2 separate regions of the Homo sapiens genome follow, and region 2 is linked to region 1. Evidence: fine-mapped expression QTL. A gene starts in region 1. The other region holds a variant in brackets. All regions are shown on one strand. Distances are between the middles of the regions.

Region 1 (8,322 bases):
TTTTTGAGACGGAGTCTCCCTCTGTCACCCAGGCTGGAGTGCAGTGGACGCTCTTGGCTCACTGCCAGCTCCGCCTCCCGGGTTCACGCCATTCTCCCGCCTCAGCCTCCTGAGTAGCTGGGACTACAGGCACCTGCCACCACGCCCGGCTAATTTTTTTGTATTCTTTTTTTTTTTAGTAGAGACAGGGTTTCACCGTGTTAGCCAGGATGGTCTCGATCTTCTGACCTCATGATCCACCTACCTTGGCCTCCCAAAATGCTGGGATTACAGGCGTGAGCCACTGCGCCCGGCCAATTTTTCCATTTTTAGTAGAGACGGGGTTTCACCATGTTGGCCAGGCTGGTCCTGAACTCCTGAGTAGCTGGGATTACGTCTCTACTAAAAATACGAAAAGTTAGCCAGGTGTGGTGGCACGCACCTGTAGTCCCAGCTACTCAGGAGGCTGAGGCAGAATAATTGCTTGAACCCGGGAGGTGGAGGTTGCAGTGAGCTGAGATCACGCCACTGCACTGCAGCCTGGGCGACAGAGCGAGACTCTGGAAAAAAAAAAGTTTGTGTCTTGGCCAGGTGCAGTTTCTCACCCCTGTAACCCCAGCACTTTGGGGAGTTGAGGTGGGCAGATCCCTTCAGGTCAGGAGTTTGAGACCAGCCTGGCCAAAATGGAGAAACCCCATCTCTACTGAAAGTAGAAAAATTAGTCAGTTATGGTGGTACGTGTCTGTAGTCTCAGCTACTCGGGAGGCTGAGGCAGGAGAATCGCTTGAACCTGGGTGGTGGAGGTTACAGTGAGCTGAGATCACCGCACTCTACCGTGGCGACAGAGCAAGAATTTGTCTTAAAAAAAAAAAAAAGAAAATAAAGAAAAAAAAGAAGTATGCTTTTTCTTGAGGACCTCGTCCAGCTTAGAATAGCTTGATAATGCCAAATGAACATCATTACAGAAAGTCTGGAAAAGAAATAAAGCTCCCTACAGCAGTTCCACCAGTACAACAAATACCAAATAGCGGTCTTAACTCGATTTCATTTCTTTCTTTTTTTTTTTTTTTGAACAGAATATCACTCTGTTGACCAGGCTGGAGTGCAGTGGCATGATCTCGGCTCACTGCAACCTCTGCCTCCTGGGTTCAAGTGATTCTCCTGCCTCAGCCTCCTGAGTAGCTGGGATACAGGCGCACACCACCACGCCCGGCTAATTTTTGTAGTTTTAGCAGAGACAGGGTTTCACCATGTTGGCCGGGCTGGTCTCATACTCCTGATCTTAGGTGATCCGCCTGCCTCTGCCTCTTAAAGTGCTGGCATTTTACAGGCGTGAGCTGCCACGCCTGGCCTCAATTTCATTTCTTTATCCATTCGACACACATTTACAGATCAGTCAGTATGGGTAGGTTACCGTGTCAGGTGCTGGGAAACAGTGGCGAGAAAGTTAACAGGTGCCTTGCTCTCATGGAGCTTATAGCCTGGTAGGAAAAGTCACGGCCACAGGCCACGTGGAAGTTCTCATTTGCTTTCCCTTCATCTTTACTGTTCCTGTAAAATTGCCTTCTTTCTTTTTTTCTAATGGTTATTTTTATAGATTTAGGGGTACAAGTGCAGTTTTGTTACATGGATATATTGCGTAGTGGTGAGGTCTGGGCTTTTAGCTTAACCATCACCAGAATAGGGTACACCATGCCCATTAGTTAATTTCTCATCCCTTCCCCTACCCCACTCCAATGTCATTATTCCACACTCTCTGTCCACATATACACATTATTTAGCTCCCACTTCTTCTCCTTTTTTTTTTTTTGAGATGGAGTCTTGCTCTGTCGCCAGGCTGGAGTGCAATGGTGCAATCTTCGCTCACTGCAACCTCCTAGGTTACAGTGATTCTCCTGCCTCAGCCTCCTGAGTAGCTGGGATTACAGGCATGTGCCACCATGCCTGGCTAATTTTTATTTTTAATAGAGTTTCACCATGTTGGCCAGGCTGGTCTTGAACTCCTGACCTCAGGTGATCCACTGGCCTAGGCCTCCCAAAGTGCTGGGATTACAGGCGTGAGCCACCATGCCTAGCCTTAGCTCTCACTTCTAAGTGAGAACATGTGGTATTTGACTTTCTGTTTCTGAGTTATTTCACCTAAGATAATGGCCTTCAGTTCCAACTGCGTTGCTGCAAAAGACATGATTTCATTCTTTTTTATGGCCGGGTAGTAGAGAATCAGCACTTCTTCAGCTGTGGGGATAATAGCTGAGAATGAGAATTGTTTTCATGAGCTCTGGCGGCTGTTCCTGAGGCCAGGCAGCAAGGGCAACATAGCAGAGAACCAAATAGGAAAAGAGGAGAAGGAAACACAGTGGGAGGAAGGGAAGGAGAAAGAAAGGACAAGAAGATGCTGACTGTAGGCATGAGAAAGCGACAGTTGGGATCTTAGTTGACTTATGCCCTGGTTCCCACTGTTTGTATTATCTAACCTTTGGCACAAGTAAAATACATGATAGTTTTTCAAATGTTTCTTATTGAAGGGGATGCTGTTTGCCTTGAACTTTGGTAATGTGCCTCAAGTATAAGAGAGGTTCCTTAGTAATTCTTCTCACCCATCCGTGTTGGAAATTGGGTTTGTGGATTTATTCTACATCTAACCGGCAAGTAAATCCCCTCTTTGCTCTTCTCAGTTTGGAAAACCTTAAGCTAACCGTCTTTGAAAGATGGAAACTAGCATGGAGGTCCCAGGAATGGGGATGCCAGGGTGTCGTCTGACCTCTTTAGGGTCAGAGTAGGGGCTGAGGGAGAGCAGCTGGGCTGCCTCCACTTCAGCCAGAGTCAGAACTAGGCACAAGGTGCTGGATGAAGTTTCCTATTCAGGGAGCAGATTTTTTTTTTCCTTTTACAGTGAAATTGGAACAGTCCTGGGAAAATGGGACAGGTGTCCCCAGTCAAGAGACAGAGCTGTTTACCCAACTACGAGGAGAGGCCCTGAGGGAGGCGAAGTGTTGATACCAAGAAATCTAAAATTTTCCGATCAAGAGGTCGCCCCTGCAGGTTGGGGACCAGGGAACTGGAGCACGTGGGCTGCCCTCTGACAGGTGGACACCAGGAGTGGGGCGGGCAGGCCAAAGTACAGCTGGGAGATGGGAGTCCGGAGGGAATTCTCTGGGTTAGTTTTGGCAGTCCATAGGAAAGCAGGTGCCTGCCCCGCAACCCGGACACCCTACTAAGCCAGCCGCGGGTGGGCTCCTCCTTCGAGGGGACTGCGGGGCAGACGATCACTTCTTTCCACTGAGTCTCTGGGAGGAGACAGGGAGATGCCAGAAGGGGCCAAGCGTGAGCCAGGGCAACCAGGCCGGCCAGGCCCGCCGGCCGCTCCAGCCCAGCACCAGGGCGCCCGCGCGGCTGCCAAACACCCCCGGGAGTTTTGCTCGCAAAGGGACCACGAGGCAGCTGCTGGCGCGTCCTGCGCGTACCCGCCCAGAGGCTCCCCGGCTTGCTCCTCGCGGGTCTGTCCCGAAACTGACGTGAAACCGATTTGGTGCAATGCGAATGAGCTCCCGCCCGCCTCCGCCTCCATCCCAGCCGCCGCCGCCGCCCGTCGCCATAACAACCGGCCCCCACCCCCCCCACCCCACGCCTTGCCCCTCGGGTCCCCCGGGCCACAGGCCACAGCGCGGGAAGGCGCCCCGCCCTCGGCGCCCCGCATCCGGCCGCCGCGCACCCCCGCCCGCCCGGCGCTTCCGAGCCACGCAGAGGCGCCCCCTCCCGCCGGAGACGGGAAAGCCCCGGCGCCCCCAGACTGGGCTCCGTTTCCAGCTCCCGGAGGGGCTGGGGCTCTCCCGCGTGCGCCCCGCACCTGCCGGGGGCCCGTACCCGCCCTCGCCGGGGCTCCAGGGGGCACGACGGCCGTGGCCCGGCGCTCTTGGGAGGGGAGCGGGACATCCCCGAAGGCGGCGCGCTGGAGGCGGGGAGCGGCCGGGGCGCACGGAGAGGGCGGGGAGCCCGCGGGAGGGGGAGGAGGGGGAGGAGGGGGAGGAGGCGCGAGGTGGGGGGGAGCGCGGCGGGCGGCAGGGAGGGAGCGGGAGGGAGGCAAGAAAGTAGCAGAAAGTGAGGCTGGCAGGCGGCGGCAAAGGAGCCGGCGCGCGGCGGCGGCAGGAAGTCTGTGCCCGAGAACAGCAGAAATAAGAGCCAGGGAGGGACCGCGGCCGCGGCGGCGGCGGCGAGAGCGAAAGAGGAAACTGCAGAGGAGGAAGCTGCGCCGCAGCCCGAGCCGCCCGGCATCCCCGCCGCCTCTGCGCCCGCGCCGCGCCCCCGGCGCCCCCTCCCCAGCGCGCCCCCGGCCGCTCCTCCGCGCCGCGCTCGTCGGCCATGGCCCGGGAGAACGGCGAGAGCAGCTCCTCCTGGAAAAAGCAAGCTGAAGACATCAAGAAGATCTTCGAGTTCAAAGAGACCCTCGGAACGTAAGTGGGGACCGGGGAGGCGAGGGTGGAGGTGGCCGCGGCAGGGGCTGCACGGGCAGCTCCAGCTGCCGCCGCCGCCACTACCGCGGCAGAAACCCAGCCTGTCACCGCGTCCTCATTGTCCCGTTCTCGGCGCTGCGGAGCCCCCCCGAGCGCGCCCGACGCGTGGGCCTGCGACCCCCGGGTGGGCGCCGTTCCCGGGAGGGGGAGGGGGCAGCGCCGGGCTGTCAGGGAGCAGCCCACGCGGGCGCGCGACTTCCCACTTCTCCTGCCACCGCCGCCCTCTCCGCTGCCTTCTCCCCACGCGTGACTGTGGGCTGAGCATGGTGGGGATGGCTGTTTACCGGCTGTGTGCGTTTACTCGCCGTGTGCATGGGCGCACCGCGTTGGCGAGACGTGGTCACGAGAAGATCAGCCTCCAGTCGTTCCCATTTCTGTCCTTACATCATGTATTTCTATGGAATTGGCATCTGCACGTACGAGGTGTAGGCAAGACTTTGGGTGGCCACGCGAGGATGGAAGGGAAGGGCTTCGCAGTGCTCAGGGTCACACGTGGGCAGAGCCTCACCGGAGGGTCTGTGCATTTCACGCGGGCTCGGCCGCACGCGCCGGGGAGCGCGTCTCCAAGGGAGGGTCTGTGCGCGTCGCTGCGCGGGCGGTGCTCTCTCCGGGCTGCATCGAGTCCCATGCTGATGGCTGTGTCTCAAGAAAGCAGAAATAATCCGAAGTCGATGGCAGGAACGCTCCAAGCATGTGCTGCTCAGCTCAGCTGCTGTTCCCTTTCTGCCCAGGAGTTGGGTCTTGTTTGTTTTGTTTCGGAGCGGCTCAGAATAGGTGGGGAGGCTGATAGTGAAAGAGAATCAGGACCTGCCGAATGAGTCTGAAGTTCAAGTTATTTCCTTCCCTCACACAATCAGTATTTGCTCTGCATCAGTATCTGTCAGTGTGGATTCACGCACAGGTGTGCAGTCAGAAATGCCCATTTTGCAGGGGTTCATGGAGGTGTTGATTAGGCTGGGAAGAGAAAGGGGAGCTATTTCATGGGATAAATCAGTGCGTTGTTGGGTGCCCTTTCTTTCCTTCCTCCTTTTTTTCCGTGTGCTTGTTTTTGTGCTTGGTTTCTTTTTTCCAGCACCACATTACCCAGCTTGTCTTCACCTCCAGGCTCGGCGTCTGCTGCTGTTCAGTCATTTCCCCTCACCCCCACGCAGATCTGCAGGGGGTCCCCCGGAGAGAAGTTGTGAGGGTGGCTTTCCCAGTCCTGCTTCTGATTCCCGGGAAGGCGCACGCTGAGGACTAGAGTGGGGTCTCCCTGCTGTGGTTGTTGCCTTTCAGGGAGGGCACCTATTTGCTATCTTTGTTGGAATGAAAACAGAAAAAGATGTAGCTTTTTAATAAATAGGGGTTTGGGGTTGCCTCTTAGTGCAGCCAGGTAAGGGGTTAGTTTGGGTCAAAACTTTTGAAAATTGCCACTGAGGTTTATTCGGGTTTGGGGTTGTGATTCTGAGATGCTCAAGTTACTGAGAGACAAGAAAGCATGGCCTTTGCTTGTCATCCAGGACCCGCACTGTGGCCGCCAATGAGGAGATGGGAGAGCATGGGGACCCACCCTGTGTGAATGCTTTCCTGTCCGTGGCTTGTTCCCACCCGAGCCCCCCACACTGGCTTCCTGCCTGTAGCCTCCGGGTGACTGATGCCCTGTCCCCTGACTGACTCGTGCAGCTGCACCTCTGCAGTGGCGGGGCTGCTGAGGCTCCAAGCTGTGGCTCCTGCTGGAGCATGGTGTTTGGAGATGACTGTGGGTGGTTTCCACCTTGGGGAAAAATGGGGATTTGCCCTCTGGTGCCAGAGCGCTTCTCTGGCAGAACAGCCTCTTGGACTCCAGCCATGTTCCCTGTGAGCTTTGGGAATGGGTCTCTCTTAGGGTCCTAAAGCATTGCCTTCTGCCTGGGATGGAATTCTTTGCAAAGGAGCTTCCCACTGTAGCACTGGCATTGGACCTAGAAGAATGATAGAAACAGTGTGATGATCAAGATGTTTTTACTCCACATAATAATCATGGTAATCATAGGTGGTATTCTGAAATGTATACCCAGGATCAGGTATTATTCTACGTGCCTTATGTGTATTAACTCATTTAAATCTCAGAGTAACCTTATGAGGTAGGTATTTACCATTACACCCAATTTGCAGATGAGAAAACTAAGGCAGCAGAGATAATTATGTGAGCTACCAAACCTTAGCTAACTATTAAGTGGCGGAGCTGGTATTCACAGATAGGCAGAGCAACTTTTGATTGTCCATACAGGGTTGACACACTTTGTAGATCCTGTAATGGCCAATGCTTAGTCAATAATTTGACTTAACTTTAGTATTTGGAACGCGAACTTTAATATTAATGTAAAGAAAACATAATGGGCTGGGCGTGGTGGCTCACACCTGTAATCCCAACACTTTGGGAGGCTGAGGCGAGCTGATCACTTAAGTCAGGAGTTCGAGACCAGCCTGGCCAACATGGTGAAACCCTGTTGCTACTAACAATAACAAAATTAGCCGGGTGTGGTGGTGTGTGCCTATAATTCCAGCTACTCGGGAGGCTGAGGCAGGAGAATCGCTTGAACTGGGGAGGCAGAGATTTCAGTGAGTTGAGATTGCGCCACTGCCCTCCAGCCTGGGCCACAGAGTGAGACTCGGTCTCAAAAAAATAAAATAAAATAAATGAGAAAACATAATGATGGCAATAATGATAGCATAATGTTATCTAAACTTGGAAAACTTGGAAGCATTTCAGAGCTTTTGGATTGTCGTCCTTTTGCTTCTGTGGACTTTCTTTTTTTTTTTTTTGAGACGGAGTCTCACTCTGTTGCCCAGGCTGGAGTGCAGTGGCGCAATCTCGGCTCACTGCAAGCTCTGCCTCATGGGTTCACGCCATTCTCCTGTCTCAGCCTCCCGAGTAACTGGGACTACAGACGCCCGCCGCCATGCCTGGCTAATTTTTTTGTATTTTTAGTAGAGACGGGGTTTCACCGTGTTAGCCAGGATGGTCTCGATCTCCTGACCTCATGATCCGCCTGCCTCGGCCTCCCAAAGTGCTGGGATTACAGGCGTGAGCTACTGCGCCCAGCCGCCTCTGTGTACTTTCTAGAAGTGGTCCCCAGTTCAAGATGCCTGCTCCACCCTGGGCCATGACCGGTGACTCTGGCCCGAGTCTTAATGTGGAGTTGACTTCTGGTCCCTTCAGTGGGGATTTTGAGTCTGGGCCCTTCTCTTGTTTTGAATGAAATCTAACACAAATGAAAGGCATCGACAATTAACCACTGGCATTCATTTCCAAAGTATGCCGCAGTTCCAGTCACTTTGTTTGCCCTACTTTCTCCCTACGTCTTTAAGATACGAAGGCAGGAAAGCCTTGTAAGAAGCAGGGCTGTCAGCTCACAATGTTCACATGTATTTAAAATAAAGCATTGCAAAGGCTGGAGGAGCACTCATTTTGCCAGACTTTGTAATCTGATATCCACTGCCTTATCCAGGTATCTCACCTCATGGAGCCGAGCATTTACTGTTGGAAGCTAAGGGGTCAAGGCGGTTAGGCTGTATGGTTAGAGGGACCTTGCTGGAGAGTGGGGGCCGAATGGGAGTGAAGGTTGGCCCAGGAGGGTGGAAAATGAGATTGAGGAAGCAAAGAGCAGCATAAGAGAAAGGACTGGGCTTTGTGGTCTGGCCTGGGTTGTCTGATGCACCTCTGAGTCAGGTCTCAGGGACAAACCTTTCAACCTGTGCGCTTCAGTGCAGCCTCCTACAAAAGGGAATCCCAGAACATAACCATATCTCTGAATAAGGTGGTGAGACTTAATTATTGTCTATTAATCAACATGTTTTCAGACCCTTGGCA
Region 2 (8,322 bases), 480 kb after region 1:
ATTTTGCCATGAGGGCCAATGGTGAAAGATGAGACGGAAACAAAATTAATTTTGCTGGCCTGCTGTATTCATAGGACATGCTATCATTAGGTTGGCGCAAAAGTAGTTGTGGTTTCTTCCATTAAAATTGCCATTACTTTTGCACCAACCTAAATCTTTCAGACAAAAGTACCAATACTAGGAAAATAAAAACTATTTTCAAATCTCACATTTTTAAGGTATTATAATATGCCTTTTATTCTAAAGGCCACATCTCTTAAATTACAGAGAGAATTGGTTTATGTTTATTCTATGTATTTATGATGTCAGAAGAAAACTATTTTAAGTCTCTAAAATATTTAGTTGGGGAAAGGGGTTAATAAATCAGTGCACTTTTAGAAGAAGGGACAACATAAGCTTTCCTTCTTGAGTAGCATGAGAATGATGTAAGGAGTTTGAAATGCTTAGGCTAATGTGATAAACAAGAGAACACAGTTAGAGTCTTTTCCGATTAGCTGAAATATTTGTCTGCTTTTTTCCTTTCTGAAATTTCAGCAAGCATTTAATGCCACGGCCGTCGTCAGACATATGAGAAAACTACACCTCGGCAGCAGCCTGGACAGTTCAAATGCAAGTGTTTCGAGCAGCCTCAGTTTGGCCAGCCAAAAAGACTGTGCGTATGTAGCAAAACCAGAATCCCTCAGCTGACACTGAAGACGAGCCTGGGGTGGAGAGGAGGGAGCCGGCATCTGCCGAGCACCTCCTGTTTGCCAGGCGCTTTCTATACTTAATCCCATGTCATGCGACCCTAGGACTTTTTTTAACATGTAATCACTGGGCTGGGTGCAGTGGCTCACGCCTGTAATCCCAACACTTTGGGAGGCTGAGGCAGGAGGACTGTTTGAGTTCAGGAGTTTTAAGACCAGCCTGACCAACATGGTGAAACCCCATCTCTACTAAAATATAAAAATTAGCCGGGTGTGGTGGCGAGCACCTGTAATGTCAGCTACTTGGGAGGCTGAGGCAGGAGAATCACTTGAACCCAGGAAGCGGAGGTTGCAATGAGCTGAGATCACACCACTGCACTCCAGCCTGGGTGACAGATTGAGACTCCCTCTCAAAAAAAAAAAAGAAAAATCATTGAACACTCGTGGAACCCTAGGTATTGCTATTTCCATTTACAGTTGAGGAATCCAGGGCTCAAGTCCTCGCAGCCATGTCTGTCTGGATAAAGGCCTGGACTCTTTCTCATCTCCATCCTTCCCTCTGATTTACCTCTCATTGTACAGTCACTCTTGCGGATTGAGGAAGGGAGAGCAGAGCCTCAGGACAGCCTCCTGCCATTGACTTCCATAATGTATATATTTTGGATGCAGACAATGATAATTTGAGCTCATTTATGTGAAGTGCATTGACTTTGCAATAAAAGTAATAGTATTTCATTGTCCTTCGTCTTTGCATGGGCTATTCCATCATCGAAGGCACACTTACTCTCTCCTTATCTCTCTCCCCAACTGCTCCTCTCTCTGTGGAAATAATCCCGTTTGGCCCTTCCCATGGGTCCTCTCCACATCAGAGCAGTGGCCCTAATCTCCCTAACCATGGAGCAGCCCTGCAGCCTGGTCTCACCCTGGGCATCATGCTCCTTCCCATTTGGCTCAGAAAAGGATTCCCTTCCTCTCTAAGGAATCTTCCCATCTCATTTGGGACCATCCAGCCCTTAAATTTTCCCAAGAAATCTCTGTGAGTGTCCCCTGACATACCATAGCTCCCCTTTCACCCTGAATCTTTTCCACCCTCTGGTCAAAGGGAACCCCACGATGGATCCCTTCTTTACAGATTCATACACTGGCATCGGCAGCAAAGCCCGTCGGGAGCACTCCTTGTATGGCTGTTTGTCCCCATGTCTGAGCACACAGACTCCCTGGGGGCCTGCACCAACAAGCTCAGTGGCGGCTGAGGCCTCTCATATCAAGGCTTTTGATGCCTGCACATCCTCTGGGGGAGGGCTTCAGCGCAGCCTCTGAGGAGCTCCACTAGGCCAGGGACTGCTGAGCTCACACAGGAATAGGTGAACATCTCTATTCTTGCTCTTTTTTCTTTTCTTTTTGCTTTCCTTTCTTTTTCTTTCCCTCCTTTATTTCCCTCCTTCCCTCTCTCTTCTCTCTTTTCTTTTCCCTCCCTGCCTCCCTCCTTCCTTTCCTTCCTTCTTTCCTTCCCTCCCTCCCTTCTTTCTTTCTTTTTCTTTCCTTCTCTTTCTTTTCTTTTTCTTTCTTTCTTTCTCTCTCTTTTTCTTTTCTTTCTTTCTCTCTCTTCTCTTCCTTCCTTCCTTCTTCCTTTCTTTCTTTCTCTTTCTTTCTTTTTCTTTCCCTTCCTTCCTTCCTTTCTTCTTTCTCTCTTTCTTTCCTTCCTTCCTTCCTTCTTTCTTTCTTTCTTTTCTTTCTTTGTCTGTCTGTCTTTCTTTCTTTCTTTCTTTCTTTCTTTCTTTCTTTCTTTCTTTCTTTCTTTCTTTCTTTCTTTCTTTTCTTGTCTTTCTTCTCCTCTCCTCCACTAACCTGCCCTGCCCTGCCCTGCCTTGCCCTGCCTTCCCCTCCCCTCCTCTCTCCTCTCTCCTCTCTCCCCTCTCCCCTCTCCTCTCTCCTCTCTCCCTTCTCCCCTCTCCTTTCTCCTCTCTCCTCTCTCTTCTTCTCTCTTTCTCTCACTCTCTGTCACCCAGACTGGAGTGCAGTGGCACAGTCACGGCTCACTGCAACCTCAACCTCCTAGGCTCAAGTAATCCTCCTGTCTCAGCCTTCTGAGTAGCTGGGACAACAGGCATGTACCACCGTGCGCAGCTAATTTTTGTATTTTTTGTAGACCCAGGGTTGCCCCAGCTGGTCTGGAACTCCTGAGACTCAAGCGATCCACCCACCTTGGCCTCCCAAAGTGTTGAGATTACAGGCGTCAGCCACCATACCCTTATTTCAAAGTGCTCTGCGTCACAAAATGCTTTCTAGCCAAGAGTGTACACAACACACCAACCAAGGGTAGGAAGGTAGTATCATTCTTTATTCCTTCTTAAAATACCTGCTTTACAGAGCTATTATAAGAAGTGGACAATTCGTATGATGACAGTATGTAGTCAACACTAGCCTGGTGCCTGCTACATATTAAGTGCTCAGTACATGGAACCTGTTGTACCACAGTGGTGAAACCATGTTGTTTTCAAACACAAAGCAGTTAAAATTACACCAAAAAAAAGGAGAGGAGAGGTCTAAGAATAAAGCATTTTGAACCCATTGCAAAGGCTTTCCCACAGGTAGGTAAAAATAGTCACA[C/T]GGGTAAAAATTTGGGTCCCCGCAAGTTGGGCGCGGTGGCTCACACCCGTAATCCCAGCACTTTGGGAGGCTGAGGTGGGTGGATCACCTGAGGTCAGGAGTTCGAGACCAGCCTGGCCAACATGGTGAAACCCCATCTCTACTAAAAATACAAAAATTAGCCCGGCGTGGTGGTGAGCCCCTGTAATCCCAGCTACTCGGGAGGCTGAAGCACGAGAATCGCTTGAACCTGGCAGGCAGAGGTTGCAGTGACCCGAGATCGTGCCACTGCACTCCAGCCTGGTGAAAAGAGTGAAACTCCATCTCAAGAAAAAAAAAAAATTGGGCCCCCCCGCCCCCCACCATAAACCCAGCCCCTCTGACACCTGGCAGTGGGAAGCAGGGTGAGAATTTACCTCTGAAACTCTGAAGCCCACTTCTGCTGTTCCCTGCAGGTCTGGCACCTTCCACGCTCTGTAGTTTCATTTCTTCTTCGTCGGGGGTCTCAGGAGTTGGAGCCGAGCGGAGACCCAGGCCCACCACTGTGACGGCAGTGCACTCTGGAAGCAAGTGACTGGCCCTGGAGGTGGGGCCCGGGGTCGGGGCTGGGGAAGGGGAGCCCCAGGGTCGCCAGAGCCGCGAGCCACTCCAGCGAGACCCCACCTTGCATGGTGCCCCTTCCTGCATAGGACTGGAAGACCGAAGTTTTTTTATGGCCATATTTTCTACTGCAATTCTGAAGTGTTCATTTCTCACAAACTGTACTGACTCGAGGGGCGCTGATTTCATAGGATCTGGTGCTGTATATACGAATCTTGCAAAGCTCTAACTGAACGGACCTTCTTATTCCTCTCCCCTAACACCATCGTTTCCACTCTTCTCAGTGTAGGTAACCGTCTATGGTGTGTTTTTTCATTAATGACAAAAAAAAAAAGGTTTCAACTGGATTATTTAAATATTGGTAAATATTGTGCATTAGGGTTTGTTTTTCCTTTTAAGAAGTATGTCCTTTGTATCTCTAAGTTACATGACCTATATCTTTTCCTCTTTAATAGTAGTTTTATGTTAACCTTTAAGAGATTTGTTTTTCCTCAAAGGAGAATTTAAAGGTATTTTTTAAAATTCTAATAAGAGGATCAGCCGGGTGCAATGACTCATGCCTGTAATCCCAGCACGTTGGGAGGCCAAGTCGGGCGGATCACAAGGTCAGGAGATCAAGGCCATCCTGGCCAACATGGTGAAACCCCACGTCTACTAAAAATACAAAAAATTAGCCGGGCGTGGTGGCACACACCTGTAGTCCCGGCTACTCGGGAGGCTGAGGCAGGAGAATTGCTTGAACCCGGGAGACGGAGGTTGCAGTGAGCTGAGATCGTGCCACTGCACTCCAGCCTGGGTGACAGAGCAAGACTCTGTCTCAAAAAAAAAAAAAAAAATTCTAACAAGAGGATCATGAATCTGTCTCCAAGGCTAAGAGTGCCCTTCACCTCTACTCCTTCTGTTTCTCTCCCCTTCCCCAGGAGGAGGGGCCCCTCAGTTCTGCGAGGCTCTCTTCTCTGCGGGGGACTTTGGTAGAGAATCTGCACAGAGCCTTTGCTGGCAACCCATCCAGCAGAACCCACACCCACCAGAGACCCTAGAGGCCTCTTGCCATCAGCAACCAGAAATAAGCCTGCTCCCCCGAGACGCAGGGCTCAGCTTCACAGGCCAGACTTGCTGTGAGTGAGATGCCCACACTGCAGAGATGCAGGACCCTCCCTTGCAAAAGGAACCAGCTGCCATGTTGCTGAAAGTGGGCCCACACACAACCCTCATTTCTCACGAGAGCTAACAGATGAAAGCTCAGCTATGCAGTGTTAAAATTCATCTCTTTCTCTGTGGTTTTTAAAAAAATGCATTTCTAATCTTACACTTCACGTGGCCTCCAACACAAAGTTCTTTCTCCACATTTTTACCCTCTTCTCACATGAATGTTTTCCAAGGGAAGGAAGGGAGGGAAGCAGCCTTGGGAAAGGATCCATTTCTGGTGGTAAGGAGAGGGGGCCCTGCCAGGCTAATGGGACTTCAGCCACCACAGAGATGACCAAAGACCACCTCCGCCAGGCCCAGCCAGTGCTTGCAGCCCTCCCATTGGTCAGGGGAGTCTAAAATCAAAGATACATGGTGGTAGGGTCACCAAACGTCCCATTTGCCCGAGACTGAAGGATTTCTCAGGCTGTGGACATTTAATGCCAAAACCAGGAATATCCGGGGCAAAGCAGGCTGTGTTGTTCGCCTTTGTGGAGCCAGGCAGTGTGTGGCCCAGGGAAAGCTGCGTTTCATGGAGGCTTCCAGGAGGCTGCCCTGTAAAGCCAGGCAGGTGGCTTCAAGTGCCATTCCTGCAAGTGCCCCTGCTTCAGCTCTCAGGCCCATCCAATGCCTCGAGCCCACGGGGGTGTCCCGGCAGGTCTGCGTCATCACGACCCAGTAACGCTGCTGGCTGTGTCCTCATGCCCTCTTCCTCTGGCTGGCCAGTCATGGGAAGTCCTGTTGGTTGAGTCATCTTTGTCACTTCTACACCTTTGAGTATGTACAGGCTGAATGTTGAGTGATGCCCCCCCACCCTCTCAATAAACACACACACACACACACACACACACACACACACACACAATGTTATTAGGCACAGCAGCTCCATCCTGCTCCCTGAGAATGGCAGTGCAGGCACAGAGAAGAGCAGTTGGGAAGACAGGCAGCTGGTCTACCCTGTCCCCGCACACTTCACAGGCACTCCACTGCTTGGCAGGAATTCTGCATGGCATCTGCCACGCATGCTCACAGGGTGAAAAATCAAGCTGTCACTCTGCAAAATCTAAAAACCCTGGAAAGGTCTATAAGATGACATTAGACCCAGTTAAGAAGCAAGTGTCACCTGAGTTGGCCATGCAATGAATGAATATTATAAGCAGTATTGGAGAACTAGGCGGTTGCTTACTAAGAAGTGTCTTGGAAACATTCGAGTTCATACAGTGCATGACAAAGTAATAGAAGGCTGCAAGCGCTGAAAATGCACCCGAATCTGGTACCTAGGATGAGTACATGAATAGTGATGAATAGCCCTTTGTGCTGTGTGCTATATACAACCATTTGCATTCAGAAAGCAGCATTTGAAGCTGAGTTCCATTACTGGTGATTGAAGTATTTTCAGGAGCAGATACATGTGGTGCATGTTATATGCACTTAGTTTGAAAGTATCCCTCACCCAAAAAGTGCAGAACCTCTGAAAGGTGAGCCGTGGTGCAGGTGCCCCCCTCGCTGTTCGGGTCAGTTCTTGGCCATGCTTGGCCTGTCACACGCCGGGTCTCAACAACATCGTGCGAGGAGACAGTGACTGGTTTCAGCCCAAGAGTCAACTGTTGAGCATGACATCAGGAAGCCTGTACTGTCCTGATCCCACCAGGCTTGGGTTAATTTCCTATTGCTTCAGAGAAAGAGAGGCGCTCTTGTGCTTTTGAGAGAGCTCTCATGTTAAAAAGAGGTTGTCTTTGCACTGCGCTTGGTATGATTTGTTTTCTTATAAAACAGGAAGAGAACCTAGAATGTGCCTTTCGTGAAGGTCTGACAAATGGGGTCTCAGAGTCCTAGGACCCGCACCAAGGTCAGAGTCCACCTGTAGAGGCTGAGCATTTCTACATGCACCCAGGGTGCTGGGCTGAGGCTAAGGGTGGACGCGTAGACCCCATCACAGGCTTCCTTCCTGAGCCCAAGTCCCCCATTTGGTCACTATCCCTTCTCAGAGCAAGTGGATTCTCTTTTCCTCACTTGGAGTATTCAATGTTGAAGTAGTGGCCTGGAGTGGCCTTTCCCTCAGCTGCCTGTCTGGGCTCCCTGGCTTCCCGGATCTTCATCTCATACGTGAGGCAATAGGAGGAGTTTCTATTCATTGAGACAAACAGTGAGCGGGCACCAACAGGCCAGCAGCTTGGCCCTTTTCACAGAGGTGGCCTTGGAGTCTGGAGTCTGGGCAGCTGTCTGCCTCTCTACGGCTCTGCTTCCCAGCGGGCACACGGGTCCGGAGCCTCAGAATGAAGTGGTGCAGAGGCGCAGGGCACACCTAGGAGAAGCTCAATGACCACCAAAGCCCTTGAGGAGAGACGGGGTTTGCTGTGTTAGAGAAATGGCAACCCCCAGGACCATGCACGGCTCTGGCAGTGCACAGTGGCTGATTTTCACCAGTTCCTCCTACCCCTGCCTCTGTCGGAGACTAGAAAACATTCTACCCCTTCAGGTCTTCTTTTAAAAGAAAAGAGCTATGGCAAAGCGTGCCATACAAAGTTAAAAAAAGGAAGAGTGGCTTTGCGTTCTTGACCATGGCCACAATTCTGGTCACTTCTAGCATCTGACCTTGAGAACGGTGTAGAGTCTCTGAGCCACCGCTGGCCTTTGAGAGAGTCTCACTCTCCAGCTAGCTCTTTGTGTAGTGTCCAGGGCCCCGGCAGTCAGGATAGAGCGAGCAAAAGAAGATGGACAGTGGACAGGGCGCAGTGGCTCACGCCTGTAATCCCAGCGCTTTGGGAGAGCGAGGCGGGCAGATCACAAGGTCAAGAGATCAAGACCATTCTGGCCAACATGGTGAAACCCTGTTTCTACTAAAAATACAAAAATTAGCTGGGCATGGTGGTGCGTGCCTGTAATCCCAGCTACTCGGGAGGCTGAGGCAGGAGAATCGCTTGAACCCGGGAGGCAGAGGTTGCAGTGAGCCGAGATCGTGCCACTGCACTCCAGCCTGGGTGACAGAGCAAGACTCCGTCTCAAAAAAGATGGCCATGCTGGCCAAGGCTGGGCTCATAGGAAATATCTGTAGTAGGATGAAAGGAATCTGGCCTAGGGAGCCCCGGACTCGGTTTACCTACCCCGTACTCATCCCACTCATCTGTCTACCCTAGTGTCCATCATGCCCTGGATGAATCGTAGGTGGGAGGGACAGAAGCCGAGAACACCAGGCACACGGGGTGGGGGGAATGGGGGGAGCCCAGGTGATCCCCTTTGGAAAGTGGATTGATCCTCT

Alleles and levels. Positions count from the first base shown, and alleles are read on the strand shown. Sizes are in standard deviations (SD) of each study's normalised expression.
As copies of C replace T in region 2, the expression in monocytes after interferon gamma of the gene that starts at base 4,067 in region 1 goes up (moderate effect, 0.41 SD a copy in Fairfax 2014).

Evidence for each region.
Region 2: its variant is fine-mapped to the expression of CAMK1D in monocytes after interferon gamma (Fairfax 2014, PIP 0.90).

The regions. Positions count from the first base shown.
Region 1 is chr10:12,345,481-12,353,802 of GRCh38, forward strand. It overlaps CAMK1D (calcium/calmodulin dependent protein kinase ID), which reads left to right and starts at 4,067. Exons shown (of 11, transcript NM_153498.4): 1 at 4,067-4,430. The coding sequence starts at 4,339. RefSeq lists silencers at 3,226-3,485, 3,526-4,085, 4,256-4,345 and enhancers at 4,382-4,881, 5,056-5,215.
Region 2 is chr10:12,825,039-12,833,360 of GRCh38, forward strand. CAMK1D (calcium/calmodulin dependent protein kinase ID) reads left to right here. Exons shown (of 11, transcript NM_153498.4): 10 at 535-652; 11 at 3,731-8,322. The coding sequence ends at 3,849. Among named protein-coding and RNA genes, the nearest start is that of MIR548Q, 100 kb to the left of the region's middle. The variant C/T (reference allele first, on the strand shown) is at 3,297.